Linked DNA regions of Homo sapiens. The protein of the gene in region 1 purifies or fractionates together with the protein of each later gene. This does not show direct contact. Each region holds a gene or a part of one and is shown in the gene's direction. Other genes may lie near its edges.

Region 1 (4,048 bases):
CAGAGTTTAGGCATGGCAGTGGCCCTGGCCCATCCCAGAGGGAAGTGGCCGGTCAAACAAATGCTAGCAGAGAGGGAAGGACATGGGTGTGGAAGGGAGGGTAAGCCTCTTCTCCTTCATGAATTATCAGCTCACACCTCTTCTCAGCTCACACCAGGAGGCCTGGCACAGGACAGTGAATCATGCCCAAGAAACTGCCTTGTGGCTTCCTGCCTTCCTCCCTCCCTCCCTATCTTTCCTCTTTTCTTTTCTCTTTTCTTTTCTTTTCCTTTCCTTCCCCTCCCCTTCCTTTCTTCCTTCCTTTCTTTCTTTCTTTCCTTCTCTCTCTCTCTCTTTCTTTCTTTCTTTCCTTTCTTCTTTATCTATCTCTGTTTCTTTCTCACTTCCTTTCTCCCTTCCATGAACCTACAGCTCTATTCAGGAGAACAATGACTGTCCATTGACTTAACACCCATGATAACCAGGCACTGTGTGACGCTGAAGTAGAACAAGGGGCTTTCAGAACCTGGTGGAAGGAGCTGGGCATCAGGTTCAAGGGAGTAACACAGTCGTGGAACATTGGGAAAGGAGGAGCTATTCACATGCCTGAGATGTAAGGATGTCTGGATTTTCCAAGGGCCGCGTCTAGTAAGAGAGTGTGTATTGAGGGCAACTCTGAGTTAGTGACTTGAGGTTCATCCTGTAGTGATCAGAGGAAATGGCTGGTGTATGAACCTAGGGAATCAGCACGCTCCTCTTCCTATGTCACTCCTGGAGAAGAAAGATACCACAAGAGGCAGGGTCTTCAGGGCTGAGCCACAATGTCACACAGATCCAGTCAATCCTGCCTGTCCATCTCAATGACATCTACTATCCCTGATCAACACGGCACCTTAAGGCGCCCTTCACAGTGAAAGCAACTTATTTCCAAAGCAGGCATTTTGCCTTCCATTGCTCCTCCCAGGTCCAAATCCAGTAAGAGACTGAAAATCAGATGATTCACTTATTCTGCACCATCCCCATGGCCTCGCAGAACCAGAAATGCCTATTGTTATTTCCATGTCCACTTCAACCATGAGGAAGCCCAATAGGACTAATCTGGCTAAAGATTAGGGCCCAGGCCAAGAGGCCTGGCTCGTTCTAGTCCTAGGAGCATGGTACTTCCTCCTAATTTAATCCATTGCCATTCAAGAAGACCTTTGCCCACAGCAACCACACCACAAAGGGTGGACAGTGAGTCAGGCCCAGGTGACATCACTGTCAGAGCTTAAGTGACAAAAAATGTTAAGCCAGAGATACTTATCACAAAAGCTGGAATGAAGTTAGAGCAGTCTTTTAAAAAATCCAATTTTCTTAAGGCAGGGCTCATTTTCTATATAAATACCAGCTAACAAGAGACTCTTCACCAGATCCCAGAGGCTGAACACCTCGACCTTCTCTGCACAGCAGGTGAGTCTCCGCATTAGGAACACCTTAATATTCTCCAATAGTTTCTTTATTTTGATTGAGATCTCTTTGCTATGCAATGAATATATTTATTTTAAATGCAATAACGACTTTTGTTTAAGGTGACCTTATACATATTTTGACTTTCCACTCAGATTACAGGTGTGGAACTTAGGATCAGAAAAGGGGAGTGATTTCTGTAAAGGCTTGCTAAGTTAGCAAGACAATATACCCACTTCAAGAGCACTCTCCTGTCAACATGTATTGAAAATTTTTAATATAGAAGGCACTACATTGGCAATTTTGATGATCAAAAGATAAGTTTTTCTTTATTGCATGAATGTATAATCCATTAGAAAACATATACTTGACTAAAATTTGCAAACATACAGCATGGGGAGTGATTAGCAGAGAGGGAAAGCAAGTATCATGCTGTGGCAAAACGAGGAAGGTGAGAGCATCAGGAAGGACAGCCATGAGAGGTGGGCATGTGTGGGGAGGCAGCGATGATGTGGAGAGCCTGCCAGAGAGCATGTGCAGCAGGCACAGTGTGAACAGAGGCTCCCAGGTGGATTGTGGGAGCCTTAGGGGGAAGTTTAGATAAGAGTTCTCCTGGGAGAACTATCGCACTCTATAAGGAGGACATGAGTGAGTAGATTCTAGACTGCTGACCTTAAAATCTTTCCAACTTATGGAAAAACTGAGGTGTCACATCAATCTTCAGCCAATGACACACAGCCAAGAGTGGTATTAAAAGTGATTTAATCAGGGAAGAGCAAGAAACATGCATTTCTTTTCACTCAATTCCTCAGATGATCCCTGAGCAGCTGAAGACCAGAAAAGCCACTAAGACTTTCTGCTTAATTCAGGAGCTTAGAGGATTCTTCAAAGAGTGTGTAAGCGAAAGCTTCAGAGTATATATTTGCATATTTGTATGTGTTTTCATGTTGTACGTAGGTTTTTAGATGTACCAGGAAGAAAAGAAGCATAAAGAAAGGCTCCATTTACACGATGTGGAAGAAATCAACTTTACCTTATTCTCTGGAAGATAAGTGGGGATCACCAAAGCATCCCATGATCTCAAATTCAGGGAAAAAGAAAGAAAAGAGAGGCTCTCAGTTCTGAAGGAGAATGAAATGACAGATATTTGTCATTAAACTGGGCTTCATTCCTACTTAATCAAAGCACTGAATTAGCTGTTTTGTCTCTAGGTCCAGCATCCTTTGAAGCATGAGTTCTTACCAGCAGAAGCAGACCTTTACCCCACCACCTCAGCTTCAACAGCAGCAGGTGAAACAACCCAGCCAGCCTCCACCTCAGGAAATATTTGTTCCCACAACCAAGGAGCCATGCCACTCAAAGGTTCCACAACCTGGAAACACAAAGATTCCAGAGCCAGGCTGTACCAAGGTCCCTGAGCCAGGCTGTACCAAGGTCCCTGAGCCAGGCTGTACCAAGGTCCCTGAGCCAGGTTGTACCAAGGTCCCTGAGCCAGGCTGTACCAAGGTCCCTGAGCCAGGTTGTACCAAGGTCCCTGAGCCAGGCTACACCAAGGTCCCTGAACCAGGCAGCATCAAGGTCCCTGACCAAGGCTTCATCAAGTTTCCTGAGCCAGGTGCCATCAAAGTTCCTGAGCAAGGATACACCAAAGTTCCTGTGCCAGGCTACACAAAGCTACCAGAGCCATGTCCTTCAACGGTCACTCCAGGCCCAGCTCAGCAGAAGACCAAGCAGAAGTAATTTGGTGCACAGACAAGCCCTTGAGAAGCCAACCACCAGATGCTGGACACCCTCTTCCCATCTGTTTCTGTGTCTTAATTGTCTGTAGACCTTGTAATCAGCACATTGTCACCCCAAGCCATAGTCTCTCTCTTATTTGTATCCTAAAAATACGTACTATAAAGCTTTTGTTCACACACACTCTGAAGAATCCTGTAAGCCCCTGAATTAAGCAGAAAGTCTTCATGGCTTTTCTGGTCTTCGGCTGCTCAGGGTTCATCTGAAGATTCGAATGAAAAGAAATGCATGTTTCCTGCTCTTCCCTCATTAAATTGCTTTTAATTCCAGTCTTGGCTGTGTGTGTCATTGGCAGAATCTTCCTCCTTCCTTGTTTCCCCATTGTGAGTCAGGACCTATAGACAGAGAGGAGTTGATGTAGAAGTCATCTATTTAACCCCAGTACTGTTTGTTTCTATGGGTGTATGGGGTTACAGTTGAGGTGTTCCTGGAATGGCAATGGGCCTGGTGTGATGTTGAATAGAAGTTGTCACTTTGGGCAGCCACAGGCTCTCCTCTTGCACTGGACTGAGTCATGCCTGACTCCAAGCCACCTGTTCCAAGACACCTCTGATCCTCAGTATCCTGACAACAAATCTCCTGTTTGTTCCAAGAAAACTTTACTCCTACATATTTTGACTGGACAGTCTATTTTTCTTCATTTGTTTTACCTTCTAGATACCCCACCACACACATACACACACACACACACGCACACACACACACAGAGTCATTCACAAAGAGAAACATTCATTTTAAATAGCCACACAGTCACATAATCATTCACACAAGCTCTACCCTCTCTAGCTCAATGTTATTTTTTCTAAGTAACTCTTATGTGCAGAGA
Region 2 (3,558 bases), on another chromosome or scaffold:
TAGAGCAGGAGAACCTGCTCCATCACTTGCTGGCTGTGTGACCTTAGCAGGTCCCTGTCACTCTCAGATTCATCCCCCCTGCTGCACAATGGACCACTTAATTTTAAAAATTAACTCGGGCATGGTGGCTCACGCCTGTAATCCCAGCACTTTGGGAGGCCAAGGAGGGCAGATCACCTGAGGTCGGGAGTCTGAGACCAGCCTGACCAACATGGAGAAACCCCGTCTCTACTAAAAATACAAAATTAGCCAGGAGTCGTGGCACATGCCTGTAATCCCAGCTATTCGGGAGTCTGAGGCAGGAGAATCGCTTGAATCTGGGAGGCCGAGGTTGCGGTGAGCCGAGATCATGCCATTGCACTCCAGCCTGGGCAACAAGAGCAAGACTCCAACTCAAAAAAAAAAAAATTAAACTCTTAATATGTGCCAGGCAAAAAGAACTCTATAAATAAGAATTCACGTTTCTTATTCTTACAACAAGACTATGAGGTAGATGCTATTTTTGTTCCTATTTTACAGGTGGGGAAACTGAGGCATAGAGAAGTTTGGCAGGGGAGGGAGGCTGAGTCAAAGGCCTTGAAGGCCAGGGTGTACAGGGGATCAGTTTTGGCTTGGGTGGTGTGGCCGGGACAATCTGGCACGGGGTTGGGAAGCCAGATGCCCACAGACATCCCTGCTGACCAGGAACCTCTTTGAACTCAGGACAGCACCACGGTGTGACGAAATGCAACATCACGTGCAGCAAGATGACATCAAAGATACCTGTAGCTTTGCTCATCCACTATCAACAGAACCAGGCATCATGCGGCAAACGCGCAATCATGTAGGTACTGCCCTCGAGGCCTCTGAAATCCCCTTTGGGCCCTTGGAATATTCCCAGACCTCTGAGAATCTACGTCCACACCTCCGCTCCCAGACCTGGGCTCCCAGCCAAAGGCCTCAGCACACGCTTCTCTTGCCCCTGGCCTGCAGGCCACCTCACTGACCTTAATTTCTGTGCCACATGGCTAAGGTGGAGAGTGGCTTCCTGAATGGCCCAGTGTGGCTGGGTGGCAGCCACCCTGGCTTGTGGCCTGGAGCAGCCATGAAGGGTGGTAATTCCTCCTGGGCTGAAGCACATGTTACCCCACACTCGAACCCACTATATTTCATGGGGCGGTGTGGGTAGGTGTAAAGCATGAGGGTCTTACTTAAAATGCAGGTTCCAGACTCTAACAGACCTGATGCAAATCCTGCCTTCCCTCTTACTGGCTGGGTGGCCCTGCTTCCATTGCTTACTTTTTGCAACTTGGTTTCCTTGTCTGTAAAATGGGTAGCTAGGACAGGATGTAACTAAAGTGCTTGGCAAGGGCGCGGTGGCTAATGCCTGTAATACCAGCACTTTTGAAGGCCGAGGTTGGTGGATCACTTGAGGCCAGGAGTTCAAGACCAGGCTGGCCAACACGGTGAAACCCCATCTCTACTAAAAATACAAAAACTAGCCTGGCATGGTGGTGGGCGCCTGTAATCCCAGCTACTCGGGAGGTTGAGGCAGGAGAATCGCTTGAACCCAGGATGCGGAGGTTGCAGTGAGCCAAGATGGCACCACTGCACTCTGGCCTGGGCAACATTGTGAGACTCCATCTCAAAAAAAAGAAAAAGACAAAGAAAAGTAAATAAAGTGCCTGGCAGGGTGCTGTCAGTAGGAGCTGCAGAAATCACTATCTCCATTGGACAGACAGGAAACGACCATTTCGAGACTTTGGGGAGGGATTGAGCCATTGTAACCCTGGCTGTTGAAGACCCTGGCAATCTTGGTCACTTGCTCCTCCTGGGGGCTCTCTTGGGTCCTGTCTAACCAGCCAGCCCTGAGGCCTTTCCCCAGGACTGACTTTTGGGACCTAAAGCAGCCTCAGCCAGACCTAGAGGCCGGGCAGCAGGAAATGGCCAATGGCCCTTTGCTTTCTAGGCCCAGCTAAAGGAAGTCTGGCACTTCCTCTCCTCAATTATGCAGTTTCTAAGGTGGGCAAGGTACTGAGTGTGCTCCTGCCGGACCTCTTTGCTGATCAGTCAAGGCTTACTTCTCCAAGACACCCCCAAGTATTTTTTGTTTTCTAGATGAAGGGGAAGAAGGAAGTTGGGGAGGGGATCACTGTGCCCAGGGGGCCTGCAGGGTCATACTTGCTTCCTGGACTTCTCTGGTTTCCCGGCATCCTGGAGCCAGATGCCTTTACTTCACCTCTCTGAGCCTTGGTTTCCTCATCTGTAAAATGGGGATGAGCCTGGTAGCCACCTTGTGGAATGGATGTAAGGTTTAGACATGGGCAAAATGCCAAGCACAGGCCGTGGCATGGAGCCAGGGCCTCTGTCAGCTCTGAGCTGTGGGCTTGGTGGTGAACTAGCCACACAGGGCTTCAGAGGAAGTTCAAGATTTGGAGGGCGCTCGGGATCCCAGTGAGGCTGCCACATATTTGGCTCTAGCCCCTTCTGCCCGTGAACACACATCAGGAGGGGAGGAGAGGGGCCCGGAGCACAGCCTGTAGCTGTGAAACCGAAGGAGAGGAGCAACAAGACTCACAAAGTCTCATAAGGCCTGTTCCAGAGTGAGGAGGCCCCATACAGAGCTCACCTGAAGTCCCCCCCAGCAGAAGACTCAAAGCCCAGAGCCCCCTGCCTTAATGGTAACAATATTATCGACATTGTTATTATTTTCAGCTATTACTGATCTACTCTGAGCTGGGTGCTTCACATAATTTACCTTTTTTTACAGTAACACAGAAGTAGGGTGATCAACTCGTCCGTGTTTGCCTGGGGACTTCCCCAGTTTTAAAATGGAAAGTCCCCCATCCTAAGCACCCCCTCCATCCCAATTTTTCTGGGATGGCTGGTCACCCTACAGATGGGAGGCTTTCCTATCTCCATTTCTAGGGTGAGGACCTGGATGCTCAGGAGAGCGGGTTGCCCCAGCTGGTCAGTTGCCTCACAGACGCTAAGTGGGAGGACAGGGTTTCCAGCCGGGTGTGTTCACCTGCAGAGTATTGGTGCTGTGCCCCCACACCACGCTGGCCCGGGTTTCTGGTATCTGGGCATAACCGAATCCCTGTCTTCCTCCCTTGTAGCTTGGAGACGAGACAGCACAGGCTGTTCTGTGCCGACCCGAAGGAGCAATGGGTCAAGGACGCGATGCAGCATCTGGACCGCCAGGCTGCTGCCCTAACTCGAAATGGCGGCACCTTCGAGAAGCAGATCGGCGAGGTGAAGCCCAGGACCACCCCTGCCGCCGGGGGAATGGACGAGTCTGTGGTCCTGGAGCCCGAAGCCACAGGCGAAAGCAGTAGCCTGGAGCCGACTCCTTCTTCCCAGGAAGCACAGAGGGCCCTGGGGACCTCCCCAGAGCTGCCGACGGGCGTGACTGGTTCCTCAGGGACCAGGCTCCCCCCGACGCCAAAGGCTCAGGATGGAGGGCCTGTGGGCACGGAGCTTTTCCGAGTGCCTCCCGTCTCCACTGCCGCCACGTGGCAGAGTTCTGCTCCCCACCAACCTGGGCCCAGCCTCTGGGCTGAGGCAAAGACCTCTGAG
Region 3 (3,558 bases), on another chromosome or scaffold:
CAGGGACCTGGGGCAGAGACAAATGGAATATTCCTTGAAATGCTGCGAGGAACCAGCTTTTGACAAATTGGCTTTCAACAAATGAGCTGTCAGCTTATTCAGTGCCCGGGGGATTTCTCCGTGTGGGTGTTGGTCAAGTCCTTGGAGTGGGACCGAATAGAAGTCGTCACTGTTTTCCCCGTCTCTGTCAGCACCACCGTTTAGACCTCCTGCACCTGAGGCCTGCCGCCACCCTCCTGGGCCTCCTGGGGCGGCAGCCCTGCCAGTCTATGGGTTCCATCACGCTCTGGTGCCTTCTCTCTTCTACGTAAGCGGTGGTGCCAGAGCCCCCTCACTGGCCCCCTGGCCTCTGTCCTTCTGGCCCGTTCTTTGTGGTGCCAAAAGGGGAACTTCATAGAAGTTTTTAAATTATGAAGTATTTCAAGCAAAGGGAAAATGTAAGGATAACATAATTAACAGCCCCAGCTTTCTGAAATCTTAACATTTGCCATATTCACTTCAAATCTTATTTTTTTAGGAAATAAAACTTTAAAATATTCTGTTGAAGCCCTCATTACCCCTTTCCAGCACCATCTCCCTTCCTTGCTATTCTGGCCTTGCTATACTGGCCTCACCATTCTCATTTGGGTGCTTATCTTTTCCATGCATGGTTTTATACTTTTACTACTTATATAATTATATACACAACAGGTAGTGATTGTTTTCTTTTAGAGATAGGGTCTCACTCTGCTGCCCAGGCTGGAGTGCAGTGGCGTGATGGCAGCTCACTGCAGCCTCGAACTCCCGGACTCAAGAGGTCCTCCTGCCTCAGCCTCCAGAGTAGCTGAGACTACAGGCACGTGCCACCACACCCAGATAATTAAAAATTTTTTTTGTAGAGACAGGGTCTCACTGTGTTGCCCAGGCTGGTGTTGAATTCCTCCTGGCCTCAAACAATCCCCTTGCCTTGGCCTCCCAAAGCGCTGGGATTGCAACTGTGAACCACTGCGCCTGGCCTGCTTGTGGTTTTTTAACAGCTCTATTGAGATATAATTTACATATTATAAAATGCACCATTTTAACTACATTTCAATGGTTTTTAGTAAATTTACTGAGTTGCGCAACTATTGCCATGATTCACTTTTCTCTTTTTGTTTAAATAACGGCTCTATTGAGATATAATTCACATCCCATAAAATTCACCAATTTAAAGTGTACAATTCACTGGTTTTTCGTATAGTCACAGAGTTGTTCAACCATCACCACTATCTAATTCCACAATATTCTCTTTTTTTTTTTTTTGAGACGGAGTCTCGCTCTGTCGCCCAGGCTGGAGTGCAGTGGTGTGAACTCTGCTCACCGCAAGCTCCGCCTCCCGGGTTCACGCCATTCTCCTGCCTCCGCCTCCCGAGTAGCTGGGACTACAGGCGTCCGCCACCACGCCCGGCTAATTTTTTTTGTATTTTTAGTACAGACGGGGTTTCACCGTGTCAGCCAGGATGGTCTCGATCTCCTGACCTCATGATCCGCCCGCCTTGGCCTCCCAAAGTGCTGGGATTACAGGCGTGAGCCACCGTGCCCGGTCCTACAATATTTTCACCAGCCCCAAAGCAACCCTGTACTCATTAGCAGCCACTGCCCATCCCCCACCCCCAGCCCCTGGCACCCACTAATCTGCTTTCTGTCTCTATGGATTTGCCTATTCTGGACATTTCGTAACTAATGGAATTGTACTGGAATCTGTGGTCTTTTGTGGCTTTTCAATCCTTATAGTCACCATGTTTCTATAGAGTAACTGCAGGCTAAACTGCAGGCTAGACTTCGTGCTCAACACTGGTCCTGGGGGATTTGCGGAACTGAAGAGCACACACAGATAGTTCACACTGTCATTTCTACAACTTCTAGTCTGTGGCTATTTTTGTAAAGCTGTTACAAAAGAGTAACTACATATAAAATATATATGAATATTGGTGTGCGTGTGGCTGGTGTGTGTTTGGGGTGTTCCCAGGCAGACCTGGAGTGGGAGGCAGGCTTTCCCTAGAGCCTGGGGAGCGGGGAGGAAGGCAGAAGCTGAACCCGAATCTAGTCTAGGTCAGGACCGCTCGCTGTTGGCATGAGCTCTGGATGAGGTACTGAAGGAATCTCACTTTCTCTTTTGCTCCCAAGGCAAGCATTGATGGAAGAACAGGTGAATGGTCGCCTGCAGGGACAGCTGAATGAGATTTACAACCTCAAACACAATCTGGCCTGCAGCGAAGAGAGAATGGCCTATCTATCCTATGAGAGAGCCAAGGAAATATGGGTGAGAACCTCCTGGGGGAGCCTTGCAAGAAGACTGGAGGGATGAGCGAATCTATTCTGATACCCCCAAACCAAAGCAAGACACGGGTCCTCGAGCTGCCCCCTCCTGAGGGTTCGATGGCCACACACATTTGTTTCAGAGCTAGCAGCATCTGATCTTTACACTCACGCTCCGCTTCCCACCATCTGGCTTAGCTGCTTTTGCCACTCTGGTGCTGCAGTGCTCACCCGTGAGCCTCTGACTCGGGAGATCTGGGGTGGAGCTGCTTCTGCTGCGGCTGCAGGTGTAGGGAGCGCCCTCTCAGAACCCCTCCTTAGACCTGGCTTCCCTCTCCTCACTTTTCCATTCCCATAGCGCCCACCCCCGTCCCTGGGTAGCTGTGTCTTGACCAGGTCCTCAGCTTCGGGAGACAGTGGATGGGGGAGTGCAGCCGGGTCAGATGAAGCTTTCCCTGTTGCTGGAGAGCCTGCGCCCTCCCCTCTGCCCTGAATGTGCTCTAGGCTCTCTGCTTCCCTCCTCGAATACCCACTCCACAGTGCTTTCTGCTCACCCCTAAGAACTCAATAAACGACCACAACTCTGTGCTGACTTCTGGTGCGTGCATTTTCGTCTCCTGCAGGAGATCACGGAGACCTTCAAGAGCCGAATATCCAAGCTGGAGATGCTACAGCAAGTCACCCAACTGGAGGCAGCGGAGCACCTCCAAAGCCGTCCCCCGCAGATGTTGTTCAAGTTCCTGAGTCCGCGCCTCTCACTGGCAACCGTCCTCTTGGTCTTTGTCTCCACCTTGTGTGCCTGCCCCTCGTCACTGATCAGCTCACGCCTGTGCACCTGCACCATGCTGATGCTGATCGGGCTTGGGGTCCTGGCCTGGCAGAGGTGGCGCGCCATCCCTGCCACAGACTGGCAGGAATGGGTCCCCTCCAGGTGTAGACTGTACTCCAAGGACTCTGGGCCTCCAGCAGATGGACCTTAAGGGGCCAGGAGGGCCACCTGCCTTAGCTTGCTAGCTCCCTCCCTCCTCCTGGGTGCTGAGGGCATCCAGCAAGCCCCTCCACAGCTCTTGCTTGCCGATTATGTAACCACCAGCCTGGTGAAATGGATATAGACGCCCACCTGCCTCACACTTCTGTTTTGCCAGGATCCTTTCACGCCATCGGTAGACATGAGGCTCGGGAAAACTTAAAGTCTATGAAGCGCTCTCTCCTCTTTATCCCCCTTGCACCCTCTCGAGACCCAGTGCCTGCACACGCAGAGGCTCAGGTGGTCCCACACTG
Region 4 (3,558 bases), on another chromosome or scaffold:
CTAGAACAGAGCTGAGCCCATTCCTGTTGCTCCGTCATGACTGCCTCCCCGACCCCGGGGAGGAAGGCAGGGCTCAGCTCTGCATGGAAGAATGTGTGCTGCTAATTGAGGTTGAATCATTTGGCACTTAATTTTCACTTTCATTTGAAATCCTCTCTTCGGTAAACTGGCGAATCCAGCCTGGGATTCCAGTGGACAGGATGACATCAGCCTCCCTAGCTGTGTGCGCCAGGCCCCACCAGGTTCTGCCTGGCCTCTCGGCAGCCCCATCCCTGCTCCTGCCGCTGTGTGTGTGGGTGCCTCATGATGTCCAGTGGCTCAAGCCTCTGCCTTAGCTCAGGCACCCCTTCTGTTGGGTATTCTGTTCCCTCCTGCTCCACCTCTCCCTGCCCCGTGACACCTCCAGCTGCCTTCATCTTTCAACCAATAGCACGGTAAGGGCCTCCCCTCCTGGCTGATGTGCCAGTTTCCCCCTCTGTTCCCCTCTGGCCCCTCCCTAAGACTTCTCCAAGAGGGTCCCTCCCTCCCTCCCTCCTTCCCTCCCTCCCTTCCTCCCTCCCTTCCTCCCTTCCTTCCTTCCTTCCTGACGGAGTCTCGCTGTGTCACCAGGCTGGAGTGCAGTGGTGCGATCTCGGCTCACTGCAACCTCTGCCTCCCGGGTTCAAGCGATTCTGCTGCCTCAGCCTCCCAAGTAGCTGGGACTACAGGCATGCACCACCACACCCAGCTAAGTTTTGTATTTTTGGTAGAGACAGGGTTTCACCATGTTGGCCAGGATGGTCTCGATCTCTTGACCTGGTGATCCACCTGCCTCAGCCTCCCAAAGTGCTGGGATTACAGGCGTGAGCCACCGTGCCCAGCTGGGACCTTTTATAAATGCAAATCTGATCTCATCACCTCTGCCTGGCTTGGCCCCTTGCTGGTTCCCCATTGCCCTGAGAACCAAGACCTGACTGGTCCGTGCCCCTATGACATCAATCCTTTCTCACCCCCAAGTCACTAGCCATGCGTGCCCTGTGGTCTCTGGGTTCCTTGAATGCACCATCCTTCCTCCGTGGGGGTGGGCTTCGGTGGTGGTCAGGTGATACCTGGGTGCTGGGGCCCCTTCCACCTGCCCCATTCCCCTCCTCCACTCCATTCTAGGGCCAGGCCTCAGAGTTCTACAGGCACTAGATGAAAACATGGTCTCTGCTCTCTCCAACTCCATTTCCAGCCATGAAATAGCAGCGATGCTTACCATGTGGGCCTTTCTGAATTGGGTAACAGGATCTAGCCTTGCTCTGCCACCCACTGGCTGGGAGATCTTGGGCAAGTCCCTTCCTCTCTGTAAGCCTCAATTTCTTCATCCGGAAAATGGGGTGAGGGTTGCCCATGGTGGTCTGTGCATAAGGTTCCTCTCTGGTCCTGGCTGCCTGTGGGTCTCTTAAGTAAGGGGGACCCTCAGGGGTGTCACACCATTGACACATTCCTGCACCTGTCCCTCTGGTCCTCTGGGGAGGGGCCCTGTGGCAGGGGCATTTGGGGACATGGAAAATGAGACTGCTTAGCTTCTCAGCATCTCCCAGTGGGGTGGCTTGAACATCCTCTGTTTTTTTGGATTCTCCTAATGGCTCCAAGAAATAGGTATTTTCCCCTCCACATTAAAGAGATTGAGGCTCAGAGAAGTTAGGTCACTCACCCAGGGTCACACAGCCAGGATGTCCTGGCTTCCCAAGGAACTCTGTGTTCCCGCCCAACAAGAAAGGTCCTTGACCTCTTCAGGCCTCAGTTTCCTCATCTGTCTAATGGGGGTAACTTAAGATCCTTTTGTCTTGGATCACATGAGACTTCAAGACCTAACATACAAAGACCCTCAGCCCCCTGCCTGGCCTCAGAGAAGGTGGCTGTTGCTTCTCAAGGTCCCAGCTCTTTCCCCATCACCGTGGCCCTGAGATTCCAGGGATGACCCAGAGGAGACAGGTGAATCTTGTGGGGCTTCTTGGCACTAGCACTGTGGCTGGACATTAGAGGAGAGAGTGTCCAAGCATTTCCCAAAAGTGTGTTTCTGGTCAAAACTGGAAAAACAACACAGGTGTGGCTTTTCCCATCATGCCTCACTGTGTCTCCCTGGACAGCGCCTTCTTCCTGAAATCCCACAGCAGTGTAGGTGGTACCCAGAGTAGGTGCACGCCAGCACCTGCTGTGCACCAGACCGCGGGCTGGCCCCAGGGTGCAGCGGCAAACAAATGAGGCTTAGTGCCTGCCACCTGGGATGCTGAGTTCCCCAAGGAGTGCTGGTTTAGGTGGGGTGGTAGCCCCGACATGGCTGGAAGTCAGGAAAGGCTTCTTGGAGGAGGTGACATTGAGCAGGGGCTGGAGGGATGAGTAAAAGTCAGCCAGCCTGGCAGTGGGGAGGAAGAGAAGGGAGAGAGGAAGGAGAGTGGGAAGTCAGGGGCCACTGTTTGCAGGCACTTTCCAGACAGGCGGGAACAGGGCCGTTTGAGGAACTGAGAGGTAACCAGGAATTCTGTCCAGGGCTGGACAGGCAAAGTGTATTAAAAAGGCTGGGCTGCCCACTTTTTGGGGGTGTGGGGGACTCCTCTCAGGAGAGGTGTCTTTTGTGTTACTCTGAAGTGTTAGCGCTTCTGCAGCCTAACATTGAGTAGCGTTCTCTGAGGACTTCCTGGAGGAGGTGGTTTAATTCCCTTCCACCTGCATTCACTGGGTGACAGGCCTGAGACTGTGGAGAATAAGCAGGCATCGGCCTGGCCCACACAGAACCCACAGCCCTTGAAGGGGTGGAGACTCACCAAGTGCCTGCTCGTGGTCCAGGCAAAGTAGTCACCTGAGAGAGGGAACCATGGGCTCTTTACAGGTAGAGGACGACGAAGCTCCGCCAGAGAGGAGGACTTGTCTGGGCAGGGTTTTGAAGCATGAATAGAAGTTGGGAGTGAAATGGGGCTGGAAGCGTATTCCAGAGGGAGATACAGACAGGATCAAAGGCTTGGAGGGCTGGGCAGCCTGGAGGGTGTGGGGGCCAGAGACCAGGTTGGTGAGAACATATGGACAGCTAAGGTGGGAAGGACATTCTGGGCAGGGGCTTTGTGTGGACCAGCACAGGGAGGTGGGCAGTGTGAGCCTTTCCCGGGAAACGGCTTGGCTGGTGTGCGAGGGGAGGAGTAGGAGGAGAAGTCAGAGGAGCCGGAGGTCTCAGTGGACCAGGTCAGGGCCTGTGTGGGGGACCACAGCGGGAAAAGTGACAGTGATTCCCTAACCCTCAGGGGCAGGCGGTGAGGGCATTCCCGGAGGCACAGCTGTGGCCTGGGGCAGTGAGCACTGGTCGTGGTCACTGGTTTCTGGTTTCTTACCTAGTTGGGTCACTCACTGGCTGTGTGGCCTTGGGCAAGTCACTGCATCTCTCTGAGCCAAGTTTTCCCTTCCACAGCGTGGGTAGCCAGCACCTTCCTCGCGGGGATGTGTGTAGCAAGAACTGGCTTGCAAAACCTCCCCTATTCCGAGCTTGGAGCCCTGGGATGGCCCTCCCAGCATTCGTTGGGCTTCCCCGTCTCTGATATTTGT
Region 5 (3,558 bases), on another chromosome or scaffold:
TTTCAAATTATGAATATATGATACTCCAAAACTTTGTTCATTTGTTCATTCGTTCTTCCATCCATTTGGCAGACATTTATGATAAGCCAGGATGTGTTACTGAGGACCATTCATATAATAATACTGTTGAAACTTATGTCTGAAATTAACATCTTCCATATCCATTCAGAAGTCCACAACAGGCTAGGGACCATTCTGGGCTTATTACAGGGTCCCAGGTGTGGCTTCCTGCTTCTTCTCCAGGCCTTGTACAGAGAGTGTGTATGGAAGCATTCCTTGGCTGCCTCTGTTGTGAAGACTTAAGGGCTCATAACACACACATTACCCCTCATTTCTCTTTGTAGATCTGACTGTTGGGTTCAGGATTTCATGGAAAAAAAAGGACAATGCTCCCCACAAGAACACAGCAATGAATTATGTTTAGCTCACAAGAAGAGTGGTTTTTCTAGTCACCAGATATTTCATTGAATAAAACCAACGTTTAACGTTTAGAAGAAATATCTTTTAATAAGTTTTAATAAGTTTTGTGGGGGTTTTGTGTGTGTGTGTGTGTTTGGTTTTTTTTTTTTTTTTTTTTTTTGAGAGAGTCTCACTTTGTCAACCAGACTGGAGTACAGTGGCATGATCTCGGCTCACTGTAGCCTCAACCACCTGGGCTCAAGGAATACTCCTCGCGCCTCAGCCCCCCAATTAGCGGGATCAACAGGTGTGCATCATCATACCTGGCTAATGTTCCTTAGTTTTTATAGAGATGAGGTTACGCCCTGTTGCCCAGGCTGGTCTCCAACGCCTCGGCTCAAACAGTCTACCTGCCTCAGCCTCCCAAAGTGCTAGGGTTACAGGCGTGAGCCACCTTGCACAACCAGTAAGTGTTTGTTTGTTTGTTTGTTTGTTTGTTTGTTTTGAGATGGAGTCTCGCTCCGTCATTCAGGCTAGAGTGTGGTGGCACGATCTCAGGCTCACTGCAACCTGCCTCCTGGGGTCTAGCAATTCTCCTGCCTCAGCCTCCCGAGTAGCTGGGATTACAGGCATCTGCCACCACACCCAGCTAATTTTTGTATTTTTAATAGAGACGGGGTTTCACCATGTTGGCCAGGCTGGTCTCAAACTCCTGGCCTCAGGTGATCTGCCTGCCTTGGCTTCCCAAACTGCTAGGATTACAGGCGTGAGCCACCGCGCCCTGCCCAGTAAGTTTTTTAGAACATAAAATTACCCAAACTCTACTGTGTTATATGCAAAGTAAGTTTTCGTGGAAAGTGGTTTTGTAGCATACCAGATAAATTATTTCTGTCTTTCACCTGTTTCATCTCTGGTGTATTATCAGGTCGCCTCTACCTTGCCCAGAACACAAAGGTGCTGCAGATGCTGGAGGGAAGGCTGAAGGAGGAGGACAAGGATATCATCACCAGGGAGAATGTTCTTGGGGCCCTGCAGAAGTTCAGTCTCAGGTAACGACTGTGCAATAGGTCACGGTGTCTCCTGTGAGATCAGATTGAGTTAAAATTCCCATGGCAACCCAGGAGGCAGATGGTATTTTTCCACTACACTTTGGAGAGGTTGGATGACTTTCTAAGACAGAGCTAGAAAGCTTATCTGTAATCCACTAAACTATCCTGCGCAAGGCTGCTGGGGATGGAGGAAGACATTTTCAAAGCATCATTGGATTTTCCTAATGGACATTATCGAGTGCCAGCCATGCAGGATTGTGTCTCAGGGCATGTGCAGGGCTTAGAGACAGACACATGAATCAGACCTGATAGAGCCTCAGCCCTCAAGTTACTTCCAGTCCCCTGTGGGAGCTGCACACATGAATGCACATCCCAGCAGAGTGTCAAGGGCAGTTCTGTGGAAGTCAGGGTTAGGGCCTCCTGACCTTGTCCATGATCCCAGCAGCCCACCCCATGGGATCAGCCTAGACCGTCATGACTTGGAACCAATGGGGCCAGGCTAATTTCTGTATTTCTAGTAGAGACAGGATTTTACCATGTTGGCCAGTCTGGTCTCGAACTCCTGACCTCAGGTGATCCGCCCACCTCAGCCCCCCAAAGTGCTGGAATTACAGGCGTGAGTCACCGCACCCGGCCCCGTAGGTTCCTTTTTAGTTTACAGTTTTGTTGAGATGTATTTACACACCATAATATTCCCCCATATTAAGCATACAATTGAAGGATTTTTAGTGTATTTACAGAGTTGTGCAGTCATCACCACAATCCAGGTTTAGCACATTTCCATCACCACAAAAAGAAACCTCATACCCATTTACAGTCACTCCTCATTCCTACCCCCAGTCCCCGGTAGCCACAAATCTGCTTTCTGTCGATTGACTTGTACTGGACGTTTCATATAAATGGAATCATGTAGTGTGCACTCTTTTGTGACTGGCTTCTCTCACTTAGCATCGCGTTTGCAAGGTTTGTCCATGTAGCAGCATGTGTCAGGGCCTCATTCCTTTTGTGGCTGAATATGTACTCCATTATGGCTACATCATATTGTTTGTTTGTTTTTGAGATGGAGTCTCACTCTGTCACCCAGACTGGAGTGCAGTGGCGCAATCTTGGCTCACTGCAACCTCCGCCTCCCGGGTTCAACCAATTCTCCTGCCTCAAACTCCTGGGTAGCTGGGATTACAGGCGCACACCACCACACCCGGCTAATTTTTGTATTTTTAGTAGAGATGGGGTTTCACCATGCTGGTGAGTCTGGTCTCGAACTCCTAACCTTGTGATCCACCCGCCTCGGCCTCCCAAAGTGCTGGGATTACAGGTGTGAGCCACCGCGCCCGGCCTACACCACATTTTGTTTGTCCTTCAGTTGATTGGCATTTGAGTTGTTTGCATTTTTGGCCAATATGCATAATGCTGCCATGAATGCTTCAGCACAAGTCTTCGTGTGGACATATGTTTCTTTTTCTCGTGGATCGGCATCTAGGAGAGGAACTGTTGGGACATATGGTAATTTTTTCAGAGTTTTTATTCTCTCATGATCACCTCAAGTTCTCTTTGACTTTCTTGAGAACTCTAGTCCCTGGAGTCTTCAACTTTTTTCTGTCGGTCCTCTTCTGAACACACTTTCTTCCCATCAAATGTGGTTTACATTTGACTGACTCACAAATAACCAGAAGCCTACAAAGTGAAATGGTCTAAGCATGTGTGTTTTTAGTGGGGGAAGGGATAGGTATTTGTATCTACCATTTGCCAGCTCCCTGCCAATGAAAATTCTTTGTTCTAACTATATGAATCGAAAAGAACTGTAAGTGCTGCAGAGTCATTACTTCCTCAGAGCATACAAACACTTCATTTCTTTTTGTTTATAGAGAGAACTTTGCTCCATGTTGATCGCTTTGGGGAAGTTTTTAGAAATTCAATAACTATAGTTAAGTAACAGATACAAGATATGGTGAAAAAAATACTTCCTCCTGGTAATGCAAATGTTTACTGCCTGTTTATCTTTTCCTCTAAGTGTTAATTTAAGCTTTTTTGTTCTGTAAATGTGCTTAACCTTTTTGCAGTTTTCCAGAGTCTCTGCAATAAATGAAGAAGGTAGCTAGTTACCAAGAGA

The links.
Region 2: the proteins of SPRR3 (region 1) and CX3CL1 purify together in Homo sapiens (co-immunoprecipitation; one large-scale study listed by IntAct). This does not show direct contact.
Region 3: the proteins of SPRR3 (region 1) and TEX28 purify together in Homo sapiens (co-immunoprecipitation; one large-scale study listed by IntAct). This does not show direct contact.
Region 4: the proteins of SPRR3 (region 1) and RAC2 purify together in Homo sapiens (co-immunoprecipitation; one large-scale study listed by IntAct). This does not show direct contact.
Region 5: the proteins of SPRR3 (region 1) and ARMC9 purify together in Homo sapiens (co-immunoprecipitation; one large-scale study listed by IntAct). This does not show direct contact.

The regions. Positions count from the first base shown.
Region 1 is NC_000001.11:153,000,366-153,004,413, forward strand, and holds SPRR3 (small proline-rich protein 3), read left to right. Parts: upstream 1-1,383; 5' UTR 1,384-1,428; intron 1,429-2,237; exon of another isoform or gene 2,238-2,321; intron 2,322-2,636; 5' UTR 2,637-2,655; coding exon 2,656-3,165; 3' UTR 3,166-3,491; downstream 3,492-4,048. UniProt on the Homo sapiens protein: Cross-linked envelope protein of keratinocytes.
Region 2 is NC_000016.10:57,378,932-57,382,489, forward strand, and holds part of CX3CL1 (fractalkine isoform 1 precursor), read left to right. Parts: intron 1-702; coding exon 703-823; intron 824-3,098; coding exon 3,099-3,558. UniProt on the Homo sapiens protein: Chemokine that acts as a ligand for both CX3CR1 and integrins ITGAV:ITGB3 and ITGA4:ITGB1. The CX3CR1-CX3CL1 signaling exerts distinct functions in different tissue compartments, such as immune response, inflammation, cell adhesion and chemotaxis.
Region 3 is NC_000023.11:154,271,114-154,274,671, reverse strand, and holds the end of TEX28 (testis-specific protein TEX28), read left to right. Parts: intron 1-2,145; coding exon 2,146-2,281; intron 2,282-2,900; coding exon 2,901-3,257; 3' UTR 3,258-3,407; downstream 3,408-3,558.
Region 4 is NC_000022.11:37,234,213-37,237,770, reverse strand, and holds part of RAC2 (ras-related C3 botulinum toxin substrate 2), read left to right. Parts: intron 1-3,558. UniProt on the Homo sapiens protein: Plasma membrane-associated small GTPase which cycles between an active GTP-bound and inactive GDP-bound state.
Region 5 is NC_000002.12:231,271,631-231,275,188, forward strand, and holds part of ARMC9 (lisH domain-containing protein ARMC9), read left to right. Parts: intron 1-1,324; coding exon 1,325-1,448; intron 1,449-3,558. UniProt on the Homo sapiens protein: Involved in ciliogenesis. It is required for appropriate acetylation and polyglutamylation of ciliary microtubules, and regulation of cilium length. Acts as a positive regulator of hedgehog (Hh)signaling.